Linked DNA regions of Homo sapiens: region 1 is linked to region 2. The links come from fine-mapping of genetic effects on gene expression. A gene starts in region 2. The other region holds a variant in brackets. All regions are shown on one strand. Distances are from middle to middle.

Region 1 (8,341 bases), 33 kb after region 2:
CTTGATCTTTTGAATTCGTGATCCCCCTGCCTTGGCCTCCCAAACTGCTGGGATTATGGGCGTGAGCCACCATGCCCGGCCTTTTATTTTTTTGAAACGAAGTTTCACTCTTGTTGCCCAGGCTGGAGTGCAATGGCGAGATCTTGGCGCACTGCAACCTCAGCCTCCTGGGTTCAAGCGATTCTCCTGCCTCAGCCTCCTGAGTAGCTGGGATTACAGGCATGTGCCACCATGCCCAGCTAATTTTGTATTTTTAGTAGAGACAGGGTTTCTCCATGTTGGTCAGGCTGGTCTCGAACTCCCAACCTCAGGTGATCTGCCTGCCTTAGCCTCCCGAAATGCTGGGATTACAGGCATGAGCCACCACGCCTGGCCTAAAATGTTTTTATAATAATGGTCTACCACCTTTTCTCTTTTAGTAATATTTGTGACCATATATATAAATGAGATTAAGAAGAAGGTAAGTAAACCTATTCAGGAATTTGTAATCAATAGGTGTAAAATGAAGGAAAGATCAGGGGAAACTATAGGTAAATATATTATGGTTGGTTTCAGATATGAATGTATGGTAGACTAGATGGTAGACTTACCAATGTTAAACTGTTATGAACTGTGGAATTATGAACCAAAAAAATCTCAGAAATCATCTGATTCAATACTATTTTATTGGTGAAGAAACCTAGACCCAAGAAAGTAAATAACTTGCCCAACTGGTAAGTAGTAGAATTTAAACTAGAACATAAGATCTTAGCTCCTCTGATATCTGCTTTCCCAGGATGCTGTTTATTTGCTTGGATTTTTAATGTACTGTTTGCTTTTGAAATTAGAAAGTAATCATATACAGATAACAATTTTAATTTGGCATTCTCATTTGTGTATCAAGAATTATTTCATATATGGTCAGGCACAGTGGCTCCTGCTTGTAATCCCAGCATTTTGGCAGGCCAAGGTGAGAGGAACTCTTGAAGCAAGAGTTCAAGACCAGCTTGGGTAATACAGTGAGACCCTGTCTCTACAAAAATGCAAAAATTAGCTGGGCATGGTGGCGCATGCCTGTGGTCCTAGCTACTCGAGAAGCTGAGGTAGGAGGATTGCTTGAGTCCAAGAGTTCGAGGCTGCAGTGAGCTCTATGATCATAAGCTCCAGTCTGGGTGACAGAGTGAGACCCTGTCTCTCAAAAAAGAATCATTTGAGATATGATTCCGAATGTGGTAATGTATGCTTGATCGTTTGTTTCTTGTAGTGCTAAGAATGACACGATTAGAAAATGTGATTTTTTTCTACTTCTAGGAGGTGTGATTCGGTTATAGTTTGAAGGTAGAAGTCATTAAATGCTAACCTTGCTCCTTTTTATAACTGTCTTTTAAAATTCTGTATTATCCAAACATACAGAAAGGTGCATATGCTAGTGTAGCACCTTATTTGTAAAATTTGGGACACATATTGTCTTATCAACTCTATGTTTTTTTAGAATAAAATTTTACAGGTAAATCTTCTTTGTGTACCTTGTCAGATCCCAATTATCTTCCTCTCTCCTCAGAAATGGCAATTATTCTGAAATTCATGTGTATCCTTCTCGTCCATGTTTTAAATATTGTCACATATCGATGCATCTAGAAATATATATATGTTGCTTAGTGTTTTTATGAAAATACTGTTTGCCACTATAATTTGTTTTTCACTCAATATTGTTATGAGATGTATCCATACTGATTTATGTGACTCAGGTTTATTTCTTTTAACTATTGTAGTTTTCCAATTATCTTAATATTTCTTAATGTATTTATATATTCTCCTATTGATGGACATTAAGTTGTTTCCATTAAATTCATACAGTTTTTAAAATTTGAAGTTCTGAATAAAAAAGCAAATGCATCTCATTTACATAAGTTTACATATGTTTGTTTTTAAACTTGCAGTTAAAAAGAGAATTATTTGGCTTTAAATCATATCTTTCTAAATACCAGATGAGTAGCTTCTCAAACAAGGAAGACCGTTGCATTGGCTGCTGTGAGGCAAATAAATTGGTGATTTCGGAATTGAGGTACAATTTTCAGATTCTGCAGTTATAGCAAATAGAATGTTTTTTATTGGTAATTAAGACCCTTAATTGGCCGGGCATGGTGGCTCATGCCTGTAATCCCAACACTTTGGGAGGCTGAGGCAGGCGGATCACGAGGTCAGGAGTTCGAGACCAGCCTGACCAACATGGTGAAACCTCGTCTCTACTAAAAATACAAAAATTAGCCAGGCATGGTGGTGGCACGCGCCTGTAATCCCCACTACTTGGGAGGCTGAGGCAGGAGAATCACTTGAACCCGGGAGGCGGTGGTTGCAGTGAGCTGAGATAGTGCCACTGCACTCCAGCCTGAGCAACAGAGTGAGACTCCATTAAAAAAAAAAAAAAAAGACCCTTAATTGAGGAATTTAAAAAATATACAGAAAAGCTCAGAGAATATTATAACAGGTATCTGTGATTCCACAACTAAGAATTGAATCTTCTTAACCAGGATTGATTCTCCTTAAAATTTGTGGTATTTGTTTTAAATCTGTTTCTCCAAATAAAAAATAAAACATTACAGGATGAATAATGCCCTTTGATCCTTATGACTAGTCCCATTTTTCCCCTAAGTATCCACCATCATGAATTGGATATATATTTCTCTATTCATTTTTGTATGTTTACACACATGTACACAAATATGTACCGTATACTGTGTGCAATTTTGCTTTTTCACTCAGCAGTATTTAAAAAATTCATTCATATTGAGATAGAGTAGATTAACAAATGGATTTGTGTAATTACTTTTAATAGCTGTATAGGATTCTGTCCTATAACAGTGTCATAATTTATTTGTTCCTTTATAGGTATCTTGTTTCTGTTTTCTGTTACAAACAGTGCTGCAAAGGACATCCTTGTACATGTTTTCTTATACATATATATGAGAGTTTCTGTAGTATATATTCCTAACAGTGAAATTGCTGGGTCATACAGTGTGTACATTTTCAATTTTACTAAATACCATCAAGTTTGTAAAGTGGCTGAACCAATTTATAATTCTACAGTGGTATATGGGAGTTTTCATATCCTGCCTAAAGAGTTGACTAATATTAGAATTCTAATTTTTTAAATCAACTTGAAAGGTGAAAAATAGTACAGTATGAGTTTTTTTATAGAATCTTTCTAATAATTTTTCCCTTCTTTTCTTTTGTGCCAGAATTAAGCTTGCAATAAAAGAGGCAGAAATTCAAAAGCTTCATGCAAACCTGACTGCAAATCAGTTATCTCAGAGTCTTATTACTTGTAATGACAGCCAAGAAAGTAGCAAATTAAGTAGTTTAGAAACAGAACCTGTAAAGCTAGGTGGTCATCAAGTAGGTAAGTATATTGAGTTATTTTAATAAATTATATTCAGAGTTTTGGATGATAGTTTTTTTTT[A/T]AAAAAACTTTTATTTAAATTTTTTTTTTAATTTAAGTTCAGGGATACATGTGCAGATTTGTTACATAGGTAAGCTTGTGTCATGGAGGTTTGTTTTACAGATTATTTCATCACCCAGGTATTAAGCCTAGTACCCCTTAATTATTTTTCCTGATCTACTCCCTCCTTCCACCCTCCACCCTCTGATAGACCCCAGTATGTGTTGTTCCCCTCTATGTTTCCATGTGTTCTCAGATGATAGTTTTTAAAGAACAAATTTATCAACTGTTTGGTTTCTATTATCAAACATACTTGATAATCTGTTACTAGTTGTGGTCTGATAAGACAGCAAAAGTTATTTCAGAATTATTAGACTTTGTATCATTCGTTAATGAAGTAAAATTGATATCCAATAGAACAGTGGTCCCCAACCTTTTTGGCACCAGGGACTGGTTTTGTGGAAGACATTTTTTCCATGGACCAGGGACAGGGTCAGGGTTGGTTTCAGGATGATTCAAACGCATGACATTTATTGTGCAATTTATTTATATTATTATCATATTGATGTTGAAATAATTATACAACTCATCGTAATGTAGAATCAGTGGTAGCCCTGACCTTGTTTTCCTGCAACTAGAAGGTTCCATCTGGGGGTCATGGCAGACAGTGACAGATCATCAGGCATTAGATTCTCATAAGGAGTGAGCAGTCTAGATCCTGCGCATGTGCAGTTCATAATAGGGTTTGTGTTCCTGTGGGAATCTAATGCTGCCGCTAATCTGACAGGAGGTAGAGCTCCAGCAGTAATGCGAGCGATTGGGAGTGGGTGTAACTACAGATGAAGCTTTGCTCATTCGCCTGCCACTCACCTCCTACTATGTGGCCCAGTTCCTAATGGGCCATGGACTGGTACCAGTCCGTGGCCCAGGGGTTGGGGACCCCTGCAGTTAAGATGCACCCATTTTAATATACAGTTTGATACGTTTTGTCAGGTGTTTGTGTTTTAATGTTTAACTCTTGTTACCATCACCACAGTCAAGACATAAGACATCTCCACCAGGATCCTTTGTACTTTTTCCCAGTTAACTTTTAGGCTTAATTTTCTCTCTTTTTTTTTTTTTCCAAAAAAACCACAAAACTTTTCTTAAAGTTTAGATTATTGATTTTAGACCTCTTTTCTTTTCTCATCTAAGTATTTAAGGATAGAAACTTCCCTTTAAGCGGTGCTTTGGGTGTATTCCACTACTTTTTTTAATGTGTTGTATTTTCATTTTCATTCAGTTCAAAATAGTTATCTCTTGTGATTTCCTCTTTGACTCATAGGCTGTGTGTGTTTTATTTCCAAATATTTGGAGGTTTTTCCAGATATTTTTGTGTCATTCATGATGATCAGAGAACATACTGTATAGGACTTCATTTTTAAGAATGTTTTGAGATTTGGTTTATTGTCCAGCGTATGATCTATCTTGGTGAATGTTCCAAGTTGAGAATACTAGTAATTAGAGGTGGTAATAAATATAATATGTTATAGATTCTTTTACATCAAGAACAGAGCCAATAAAAAGTAAATAGCCTAGAAAGTGAAATATTATAGATGTAGAGAATTTATGAGAAATGGCTACTGATGCAAATCTTGAAGGCAAAGTGTATCTTGTTTCCACATCTGTGTGTTCTCATGTAATCATCTACATTATGCTTTTTAAAAGCACTTCTGAAGGCTTACTTACCTTGGAGTGGGAGATGTGTATGTTTATAGTGGAGAAGGGGCATGGTCAAGTAACTACCTCTGATAACCCTCAGTAATTTTTTTGAGACAGGATCTTGCCATGTTGCCCAGGATGGTCTTGAATTGGGCTCAAGTGATCCTCACACCTCAGCCTGTTGAATAGCTCAGATAACAGGTGCCACTGTGCCTGGCTACCCTCAGTAATTTTTTTTAAAGCATCACTGAATTCTCATTAGCTAGTTTGGAGAGAAAGACGATGGGGTCGGGAAGGATTCACTCTTTGGAGCTTTTGAACCTGCTTCTGTGTGCAGTACATAAAAATGTTCTTAATGATCTCAAACTGTCCAAATAAATTTTATGATTACCTTCAGTTTAAGGAAACAGGGCAACTTAAAAAAAATTTTTACAATGATTTCTATTAAAAAATGGAATTTAAAAGGTGGAGAAGGATTCTTACATTTCTGGTACAAAGGAATAGTCTTAGCTACCTAGAAAAATGAGTGATTCAGAACTTTTCTCCTCTTTGTTACGTATTTAATTTAGAGAGCACATTACTTATTCTTTGATTTCCTTAATGAATGTCTCATTCTCTGTCCCTTTTAGTACTCTTTAGATCAGAAACTAAACTTTGTTTATGACTAAATCTTTCAACTATTTAAGTAGGTTTTTATTCTTGAAGTCCTATTCAGAACAATTTTCCTTTTATGTTTATTAGCAGAAAGCGTAAAAGATCAAAATCAACATACTATGAACAAGCAATATGAAAAAGAGAGGCAAAGACTTGTTACTGGAATAGAAGAACTACGTACTAAGCTGATACAAATAGAAGCTGAAAATTCTGATTTGAAGGTTAACATGGCTCACAGAACTAGTCAGTTTCAGCTGATTCAAGAGGAGCTGCTAGAGAAAGCTTCAAACTCCAGCAAACTGGAAAGTGAAGTAAGCTTGGAATTAGCTTGGTATATATGTTAATTTTTGAACTAGAACAAAAGGTATTATTTTAGGGTTTTATAAAAATTATATGTTTACATCCAGATTTAAAGTTTTTAAAAAATGGTACCACATAAGTTATAAATTGTTTTAAAATTATATTTGGAAACCTTTGTATTTTAACTTATTAAAAGTTAAAGTTATTAAAAGTAGGAAAAACTGTAGTGGGTAAAAGTCTCAAATTTGGTGGAAATAATATTGCATTGCAGCCTATTATTTCTTCCATAGTATAAGTTAATATGGTTAATATACATTTATAAATAAAGACTTTGGATTATGCTGTTGGAAGAAAAGGAGTGATAATAAAGGATTTCAAATTTTAGCAAACCCCAAACCACCTAGGAAGCCTGTTTAATATGCATATTTCTGGGTCCTGTTCCAGCAATTTCTGATTCAGTATATATGGGCACAAGAGTCTGCTTTTTTCTTTTCTTTTTCTTTTTTTTTTTTTTTCTTAGAGACAGGGTCTTGCTCTGTTGCCCAGTCTGGAGTGTGGTGGTGTGATCATAGCTCACTGTAGCTTTGAACTTCTAGGCTCAAGCCATTCTCCTGCCTCAGTCTTCCAAGTATTTGAGACTGCAGGCATGTGTCACTATGTCCAGCTAAGTTTTTTTATTTTTTATTTGTAGAGACAGTCGCTGTGTTGCCCAGGCTTGCCTCGAACTCCTGGTTTCAGGTGATCCCCACCTCAGTATCCCAAAATGCTGGGATTACTGGTGTGAGCCACCACACCTAGCCGGAATCTGTATTTTTATTTTTTGTGTATTTCTGCTGTTTAAAGAGTCTGTATTTTTAAACAACTGCATGTAAACCTGAAACAACTACGCAAGGAATTACATTCTGAAAAGGGGATAATGAGTGTTTTGTGAATATCTTGTCTTCATTTTCACTGAGGACAGGATAAGGGTGCCTCATTAGGTAATTGTGGACCAGGACCACATGTGTATATCTTATACTCGATCTTCAAACCAGAGGCTGCAGTCATCTATAGGTACACTTTTTAAATACCTGCTTTCTCAGCTTAAAGTCTATAGCCAAGGCTGAGGAAAAAGAACTATAAGATAGGAACTTATGTTAATAATGAAGATGGAGATTTAGACAGTTTATAACTATGGCTACCAGTTTACTTAGGAAATTGCCAAATACTGGGATTAATAAGTTTTTTAAATTACAAAAATAGCACAGTCTTGTTAATATAAAAGGGGAAAAAGAAGAAAATGAACCATTGATAATTCTACCACCAGAAATAACTGCTGATAACATTTTATTGTACTTATTTCAGTCTTTAACAGCTACGTAAAAATAGATTAGGGTATTGTCCTTTTTGGATATAGGGGTCTGAATTAAATGACTTATGTTTTACATAGATAGAAGAAGTGATCCTTTGTTTTCAGTATTTGTTTTTCTTCTTAATTGTCACTTATTTTGTAAAATACTTATAATTATGTGGGTTAAAAAGTTATTCACTTTGCATCCTAAATGTTTATAACTGTAAGTTTGCCCAATTTACCTAGACACAATGTATTTGAACTTTGAAAGAGGAGCAGGTGTTTGATCTTAGAATGCAAAATCATTACCTTTAAAAAATAATTTTACATTTATTTCAATGTGTTTTCAGATGACAAAGAAATGTTCTCAACTTTTAACTCTTGAGAAACAGCTGGAAGAAAAGATAGTTGCTTATTCCTCTATTGCTGCAAAAAATGCAGAACTAGAACAGGAGCTTATGGTAAAACTTATCTTTGTTCCTACAAATTTACTGTGATTTTTAGGCACTTAATTTGTGACAGCACATTTGTTTTAGCATCATTATTATAAAATATATAGGAAAGTATAAATTCTACTAAACTCTTCTGATCATTTCTTGTTTATATTTTTAAGTTAATAGGCTTATATGGCAAGTTATCCAAGTTTTCTCTTTTTTTTTTTTTTTTTGAGACAGAGTCTCACTCCGTCGCCCAGGCTGGAGTGCAGTGGTGTGATCTCGGCTCACTGCAAGCTCTGCCTCCTGGGTTCACGCCATTCTCCTGCCTCAGCCTCCCGAGTAGCTGGGACTACAGGCGCCCGCCACCACGCCTGGCTAATTTTTTTTGTATTTTCAGTAGAGACAGGTTTCACCGTGTTAGCCAGGATGGTCTCATCTCCTGACCTCGTGATCCACCCGCCTCAGCCTTCCAAAGTGTTGGGATTACAGGCGTGAGCCACC
Region 2 (8,341 bases):
AAAATGGAAATAGGAGATATTCCAAATGGCATCAGGTATATTATACAAGTAAATTTTAAAAATTAGATGAAATGGCCAGTTTACCAGAAAATATTGAAATTTGGCTCTATACAAAAATGAAAGACTAATAAAAATTTTTAAAAATTGATATAGCTATATTCTCCCAAAAACTCACCCAGATAGTTTTACATGTTTGGTAAACGTCTGGTTCACTCATTCAATAGATACTTTTTAGTGCCTATTATGCCCTTAAAAAAGTATTGTTGTTCTAGGCTCAGGGTTTATTTTCTAGCTAACATTTTTTGAGTGCTTATTTGGTGCTAGATACCATTCCTTTTACATGTATTAGCATATTTATTCTTCACAATAATATATAGTGGGGAGCAGGTGATTACTGTTAAAGTATAGAAACTGGTACAGAGAGGCTCAATACCTTGTGGCCAAAACGATCTTTTAAAAAACACAGATCGAGTTAACCTGCTTATAACTATTCAGTGGCGTATTACTGGTCTCTGCAAAAGACCCATATCCTTAACAAGGACCTAAAAGCCCACAATGATTTGGTTGCTGTTGCTACTGACTTCTCTAAAGTAGACTTGTACCACTTTTCTCTCTCTGTATCCTATCTTTCAGGACCTCAAAGGTATCTTTCTCTCTTCTTCCTTAGTATCTTGGCACGTTGTTGTTCTTTTTTACCCATTGTCTCGTACCACTCATTCCATTATGCCTAGTGAAAGTCTGATAATTCTGTAGATCTTAACTCTACTTCTGGATGTCTTTCAATTTCCAGATAAAATGAAGTCCTCCTACTGAGCCCACTCATAGTCTTATGAACTTACCTTCATTACCCCTAGTAAATATTTTGACATGTATTTGTGTAATAATTTGATTAATTAATACTTGATTGTATGAGGGCACAGACTATACACACACACACACACACAAACATATATATATATATTTTTTTGAGGCAGGGTCTCGCTCTTGTCACCGAGGCTGGAGTACAGTGGTGTGATCACAGCTCACCATAGCCTCAACCTCCTGGGCTCAAGTGATCCTCCCACCTCAGCCTCCCAAGTAGCTGGAACCACAAGTGTGTGCTACCATGCCTGGCTAACTTTATTTTTGGTAGAGATGGGGTCTTGCTATGTTGTCCAGGCTGGTGTGAAACGCCTGTGCTTGAGTGATCCTCCCACCTTGGCCTCCCAAACTGTTGGGATTACAGGTGTGAGCCACTGCACCTAGCTGATATTTTCACTCACCATTGTATCCCTAGCAACTTGGATAGTGCTGACACATATCAAGCACGCAAGAATGACTTAAATTTCTAAATGGATTATCTATTTTAGTCATAAGATACATGAATTGGCATTAAAGTTTTCAAGAACCTCTATCAATATAATGTGAGGCTAGTCAATTATCCAAAAAGTATTCTCCTAAAACCTAAAAAGTAAGAAATTAGTAAAATTTTCAATAAGTAACCAAGGACAAAACTAGATTGTTCTATAAAATTTTAAAAACTAACTTTAAGACAAAAATTAGTAGGATGTAGTTACTGGGAAATTAAACAAGTTGGGAAATACAAACAGGGTGGAAGATGATAGTTACCCTACACATCTCACCAACACTGTCTAGGATTACAGACAAATGATTTTACCTCTTTCCTTAATCAAAACAAATTGTTTAGGGAGAATGTTTTAAAGGAATAGTCCCAGCCGGGCGCGGTGGCTCACACCTATAATCCCAGCACTTTGGAGGCTGAGGCTGGCAGATCACTTGAGATCAGGAGTTTGGGACCAGTCTGGCCAACATAGTGAAACCCCGTCTCTACTAAAAATACAAAAATTAGCTGGGTGTGGTGGCACATGCCTGTAATCCAGCTACTCGGGAAGCTGAGGCGGGAGAATCACTTGAACTCGGGAGATGAAGGTTGCTGTGGGCCAAGGTCGCGCCACTGCACTCCAGCCTGGGTAACAGAGTGACAGAGGGAGACTCTGTCTCAAAAAAAAAAAAAAAAAAAAAAAAAAAGGAACAGTCCCTTTAAGAGTGACTAAAGATGTAAAGAATAAAGCTAAACCAAGCCAGCTACATAACTATAGAGGTATAAATGTAAAATTAACATTCATTGATTATTTACTATGTGTCAGGGATGATCTATGAGCATTTTTTAATAGACTACTTTACACTGAATATGAGCATTTATTAACTCATGCTTTTTCAAATCAACTCTATGATGTAGTTACAATTATTATCTCTATTTTACAAGTGAGAAGATCACATAAGTTTTAAGTAGGCAGAGTCAAGATTTGAACCCAGGCTAAGGTTAAGAGCTGGTGCTCTTAACTATAAGAGGACAGTAGTTAAAATAGATATCTTCCCTAATATGTGTGTAAATACTGAAGATTTTTTTATTAATACAAATTGTTTTCTTATCTAGACTATTTCACTAGCCCTCTAGTTAGTTTCCTTGACTCTAATTTTGCTCTCCTTAAATCCATTTTCCACACTGCATCCAGTGATCTGCTTAAATCTTAAATGGACTTGTACAAAATTAAGGAAAACCTACTCAGCACGGCAAACAAGGCTATGATTCATGCTTAATGACCCCAGCCTTCTGGCCTCTCCGATGTCCTTTTCTGCTACTCCCACCCTAGACTTTATATGTCTTAAAGTCTAATACAAACTCAGTACTTGTAGTGTCCACTACACACTAACCATCCCCACTTACACTATGTATTTTAAGAACTATGGATCTTTTTGTTCGCTTTTCTGAAATGCCCCTTGTTCCTGGCATTTTCGTCTCAATTAAGCATCTTTCTGGATTAAATTTTATTTTCTCCAGGAATCCTCTTCTGAAACCCTTAGAAGTGACCCTCCTCTACTGGTACTTAGCCATCCTTTATTGAAATTACCTGTTTATGAGCCAGTAACCTTTATTAAGCTCTTTGAGAAGAGGGATTCTTTCTTTCTCTTTTACCTACATCCCGCACAACCCAGCTCCCCCTCCGTCTCCCCCACCTCCATGCACAATTCCTGGCACGTGTTAACTGTTCAGTAAATGTTGAACTTTTGAACTTTACTGGAAATCAAGAAACACTGAGTTTTAGCCTCAGTTTTGCTCACTATGTGATTTTAGATATTTTATTCTCTGTGCTTATCGTGTGTATCTATATACAACTTAATCCTAAAGTTCCATCGTATAAAAAATTCTACAACTTTTTATTTTGCTCTGTATGTGACAGTACCTGGTATTTAAAAACAATTCTCTACATCAACTTAAAAAATTAACATTTGATGATTATAATTAACTTCTAAAAAACTGAAAGATGAAACACATCAATGCCTTTTCTTTCCCCCCTGTACTGCTACCTGAAAACATCGGAATTTGCTGTGGAACGAACAAGATTTCTTCTAAGAAATTACCCCCTACCACCATGACTACATAAAATAAGGTAATTCCCAGCAAGAATATTATGCAGATACTAAAAAGAAAACATGCTAGGCATGGTGGCTCACGCCTGTAATCCCAGCACTTTGGGAGGCCGAGGCGGGTGGATCGCCTGAGGTCGGGAGTTCGAGACCAGCCTGGCCAACATGGTGAAACCCCGTCTCTACTAAAAATACAAAAATTAGCTGGGCATGGTGGCGCACGTCTGTAATCTCAGCTACTCGGAAGGCTGAGGCAGGAGAATCGCTTGAACCCGGGAGGCGGAGGTTGCAATGAGCCGAGATAGCGCCACTGCACTCCAACTCTAGCTTGAGCAACAAAGCGAGACTCCGTCTCAAAAAAAAAAAAAAAAAACAATGACACGAGGGAAATGCTTACAATGCTCAATGAAAAAATGAAAAGAAAGGTTATAAAGTTTTAATATACGATTTGATCTTTTGAAAATAATGGATATATAACTTAAACGGAAATGTATCATTAAATATAGCAACAGCGTCTTCCAAAAAATTTCAAAATCGGGCTTAATGCCAATTACACGATCATAATCCAAAAACCCTTAACTGAAGCAAAGACAGTGATTTGTAACATCTGAACTGTGTGAAAGGGGTGGGGGTGATTCAAACAAGTGTCATCACCTTGTCCAATGATGAAGGAGAACGTGTATCAGTTCTGCATTGTGAAATTCTCAGTATGAGAGCGTGTAGTGGCTAAGAAAAGCAGTGGGCGAATTAGGAAACAAAGAGAAAAGCCAGCGACATCACCAGTTCTGGCCTCCTTCCCACCGGAGGAAAGGGGAGAAGGCGGGTAGTCATCAATTCCAGGTCCAGCCTAAGTTCTGGGTCCCCGGCCCCAGCGAGAGCCTCGCCTCGCCTCGCGCGCCTGCGCGGAGCGGGCTGGCTTCCTGAACGGCCCTCGCCTCTTCACCACCAGGGCCGTCCACCAGAAGTTTCTAAACGGGTGAGAGGCGACAACGCAGTGCAGCTGGGTTAAAGGAAGGAGGCTGGTTTATCCTCCGCACTTACTTGGTACTCGATCTCCAGCGAGGCCTTCAGGGGCATGGGCTGGTAGAAGCACTCCTTCTGGCCGGCGGGAAGGGTAAAGGTGAAGTCGCTATCGAGGGAAGGTGTGAAGCCGGCCGCCCCAGGCAGCAGCACCGGAGGCAGAGCGGCCAGAAGGAGCACGGGGAAGGGCAGCCAGATCTTGTCGCCCATCCCTGCTGGGGCGATCCCGGGCTGAAAGAGGCGTCAGGTACTGTTGTCTCCGCTCCGCGTTTCCTCTCTGGACTCCTCGTGGTTGACAGGGAAATCTGGAGTCTGAAGAAACTCCAGGTGGCGGCCGCGGCGGCGGCGAACACTCCCTCCGAAAGAGAAGCGCAGTTCTCCAAAGGGTAGGGACTCTGGGCGGGGCTAGCAGTCCTATTCCGCAACCGCCTCAGTCTCGGCCCCCTCAGGCCAGGCGTGAGCGCCGCCCGCCTCTCCCCCTGACGGCCTCCGGTTCCCATGGCTTCCCCCACCAATGGGCATCATGGCGGTAATTGTGGGAAATGTAGTCCCGGGCGGGCTCCGCTAGTGGGCTCGGGCGCGCTCGCCGACCACGATCCCCGGCAAGCCCCGCGCCTTCGGCGGCGCCTCACGCAGTCTGCGCCGGGGCGGGGCAGTGACCGGGTAGGCGCGTCCCAACGGCTCCCGCGGCGGTTCGAATTCTGTGCTGCCGGGGTTCGCTGGTTCTCCGAGTTGTGTCCGAGGCTTCCACGCGCAGGGGCCCGGGAAAGGGTCAGAGGCTTCCTAACGCAGACTCGAGTGCGAAGCGCGCAGTCGCCGGGTGGGTCTCTCCCCAGCGACGATTTGGGTGGTGAGCGACTGCGCCTTGGCGTGGGGAAACCGGCTTACCTGGGGGAGTTCTGTTCCTTTCCCTCCCGGCACCTTGGATGCGCTGGGACTGGTCCTCGTGGTTGCTGAGCATGCTGCTCTGAACGGTTGTATTTTATTTGATGAAAAATAGGAGGCCGGGCGCAGTGGCTTACGCCTGTTACCTCAGCACTTTGGGATGTCGAGGCGGAAGGATTGCTTGAGCCCAGGAGTTCGAGGCCAGCCTTGGCAATATGGCGAGCCACTGTCTCTATAAAATTAAAAAAAAAAAAAAAAAGAGGAAACTGTCACTTCCGTCCCCCACCCCCGCCCCCGCTTCTTTCAGACGGATGTAAGATTAGCTGTGTCAAGCGATCTTGAGACAGGAGACTACTACATAAAGTTATGACTTCTTTCCAAAATGAGGAATCTTTTTCGACTACAGCCCATTGTATCACATACATAGGGTATAAAAGAACACTTGTCCTTCGTTTGATGGGTGTGCGTGTGCAAACCTACAAACACATTGTTAATTAGGGCCGAAAGATGATGTTGTTAAGGTCGGTGAGTAGGATGATGTGCTTTTCTAGGTATGCATAGTCAGTGAAGATAGCCTTTTTTGGGTAACTACTGTAAATTGAAGTTAAGGACATTCATTTGACAGTAAATGTCCCACTAGGAAAATGAAAACATTTTAGTATCAAATATATTCATTGCTACTGCAGAAGAGTTAGGGAGTTCTTTCTTTTTTTTTTGAGACCGAGTCTCACTCTGTCGCCCAGGCTGGAGTGCAGTGGCGCGATCTCGGCTCACTGCAACCTCCGCCTCCCAGGTTCAAGCAATTCTCTGCCTCAGCCTCCCGAGTAGCTGAGATTACAGGCGCTCGCCACCACCCCCGGCTAATTTTTTTGTATTTTTAGTAGATACGGGGTTTCACCATCTTGGCCAGGTTGGTCTTTAACTTTTGACCTCGTGATCCACCCGCCTTGACCTCCCAAAGTGCTGGGATTACCGGCGTGAGCCACCGCGCCCGGACTGGGAGTTATTTCTTGCATGGCAATACACAGATGTTGAACTAAAACCTGATTTAAGATGAAATATATAGTACCAAATGGTATTATAGAATTTGCCCAATTTTCTCTACCCTTTTCTCCTTCACCATCCTACAGAGAGCTAGAGATGTTGAATAGGTAAAGCAGGATGGGGACCTGATTTATTGACTTGTCTGCGAGAGTCTTGTCACTTAAGCAGAAGCAAATTTGTGGAAACAAAAAAGGGAAAGAGGATAGAACCAGTTTGTCTATTAAGATTACATAGTATCTCATTTAATTTCCTGCCACTTTCTTTCCATAAGGTGGGAGTTTTCTTTTTAATCTTCCTCCCTACATCTGAGAATTTTTGAGTGGGGAATAAATGTAACATACCATTCTAACTGGATGAGGGAAGGAAGGACAGTTTAGTATTCGTTAATTCATTCAAAATATTGAGCTTCTCTAAGTACATTGCGGTCCTGAACGTAATGCACAGGACTTTTAACCTTTTGGAACTTGGGATGGGATCAGAATGCTAAGAAGGGCGTTGAAGGAGATGCTACAGTGAAAAAGGTAAATGGGATCTGAAAGAGGAATGTAATTTTAAGATTGCGCAGAAAGCTCTGTAGTAGTGGAGATTATAAAGCTTTAGTTTTTTATTGTATTAATTACAATAATAAAATGTGATGCTTTATTGTGATTTTTATATGCAAAGAAATTTAGTAGTTTCACAACCCTAGAGATACTCATCCACTGAAGAAACAAAAGCTTTTCTTCATTTCTATGAGTTGACCTGCCAAATGTTATTTTGATCCCTGTGGTTGTGACTTGTAAATGTGTCTTTTTAAAATTTTATAACTATTGGGCGTAGGAGGAGGAGACAGCTTTTATCTGGTAATAAATTCCCTTCTAACAAAATATGAATGTAATGATACCATTTAATCAGATGTCCAGTACTTGTAATGTAATTATGAAAGTTCAAACACCTCATATTGAAATTGATATGTAATATGTAATAAAGCTACAATGCGACATAATTTAATGGTCTTTGCATCCTAATGACTTGGATTCAAATCTTGATTTCACCATTTACAGTTTGTGTGACTTTGAGCAAGTTATTTAATGTCTGATTCTTAGTTTCCTTAACATGTAATGAAAATAATTAACAATTGTTAGGAAGATCAGGTATGCTTACAAAAGAGAACTATAATAACTAGACCCTGGCTAAAATGAAAAATTCATTCATTGAAATTGTATTGAATTCCTTTATGGCTTTACACTACAGATAAATTCATTATTATTGATTTTTTGTTTTGTTTTAAACCACCATGAAAGATTTCACAACATTTAAAATAGAAAACTAATGAGTTAAATTCTATTCATGTGAGTATTTTGACTGAAACTACAGAATCTTTCAGACAAGGTACAAGAAATTCATTTTTTTTTTAAGAAATGGAATCTAGTTCATCAGACTACTATAATAAAGACAATGAAGAGGAAAGTTTGCTTGCAAATGTTGCTTCCTTAAGACATGAACTGAAGATAACAGAATGGAGTTTGCAGAGTTTAGGGGAAGAGTTATCCAGGTAAGTAAGTAAAATCACATATAGAATTCACTGTGCCTTAAATACATCAATGTAAAATGTGTGGATTTCATTATGATGTATTGTTTCTAACCTGCCTCTGGAATAAGAAATAATTTTCTTATACTTTTTAATGTAACTTTCAGTTTAGGGAAAAATAAGGAATATTAGAGAAGCCTCTTTGCATATTAAAAACACTTTCAGTGTATTAGAACTCAGTATAAAATATATATTTTGGGCTTTACTAATTTTTTATGATTTTTTTGAATCTTAAGTAATCTTAGCGTAGAGGCTTTAGAAATACAGTTTGCTAGTTTAAAAGTAATTATGATTTATTTAAAATTTAGTGGAAACATTGCCTTATGTTCATAACTGTGAATCTGCTTAGCAGCATTTCAGGTTTTCTATTTTCTTATTTAATGTATAGCAATT

Evidence for each region. PIP is the estimated chance that this variant, and not a neighbour inherited with it, causes the effect. A credible set is the group of variants that fine-mapping cannot tell apart.
Region 1: its variant is the best candidate, but not a certain one, in a credible set for the expression of TMED5 in whole blood (TOPMed, PIP 0.81).

What each region holds. Positions count from the first base shown.
Region 1 is chr1:93,208,883-93,217,223 of GRCh38, forward strand. It overlaps CCDC18 (coiled-coil domain containing 18), which reads left to right. Exons shown (of 29, transcript NM_001378204.1): 10 at 1,920-2,044; 11 at 3,219-3,379; 12 at 5,861-6,084; 13 at 7,754-7,864. Among named protein-coding and RNA genes, the nearest start is that of CCDC18, 32 kb to the left of the region's middle. The variant A/T (reference allele first, on the strand shown) is at 3,441.
Region 2 is chr1:93,175,584-93,183,924 of GRCh38, forward strand. It overlaps TMED5 (transmembrane p24 trafficking protein 5), which reads right to left and starts at 4,830. Exons shown (of 4, transcript NM_016040.5): 1 at 4,471-4,830. The coding sequence starts at 4,659. CCDC18 (coiled-coil domain containing 18) reads left to right here and starts at 5,141. Exons shown (of 29, transcript NM_001378204.1): 1 at 5,141-5,269; 2 at 7,777-7,912. The coding sequence starts at 7,779. RefSeq lists enhancers at 4,211-4,360, 5,231-5,440 and a silencer at 4,891-5,170.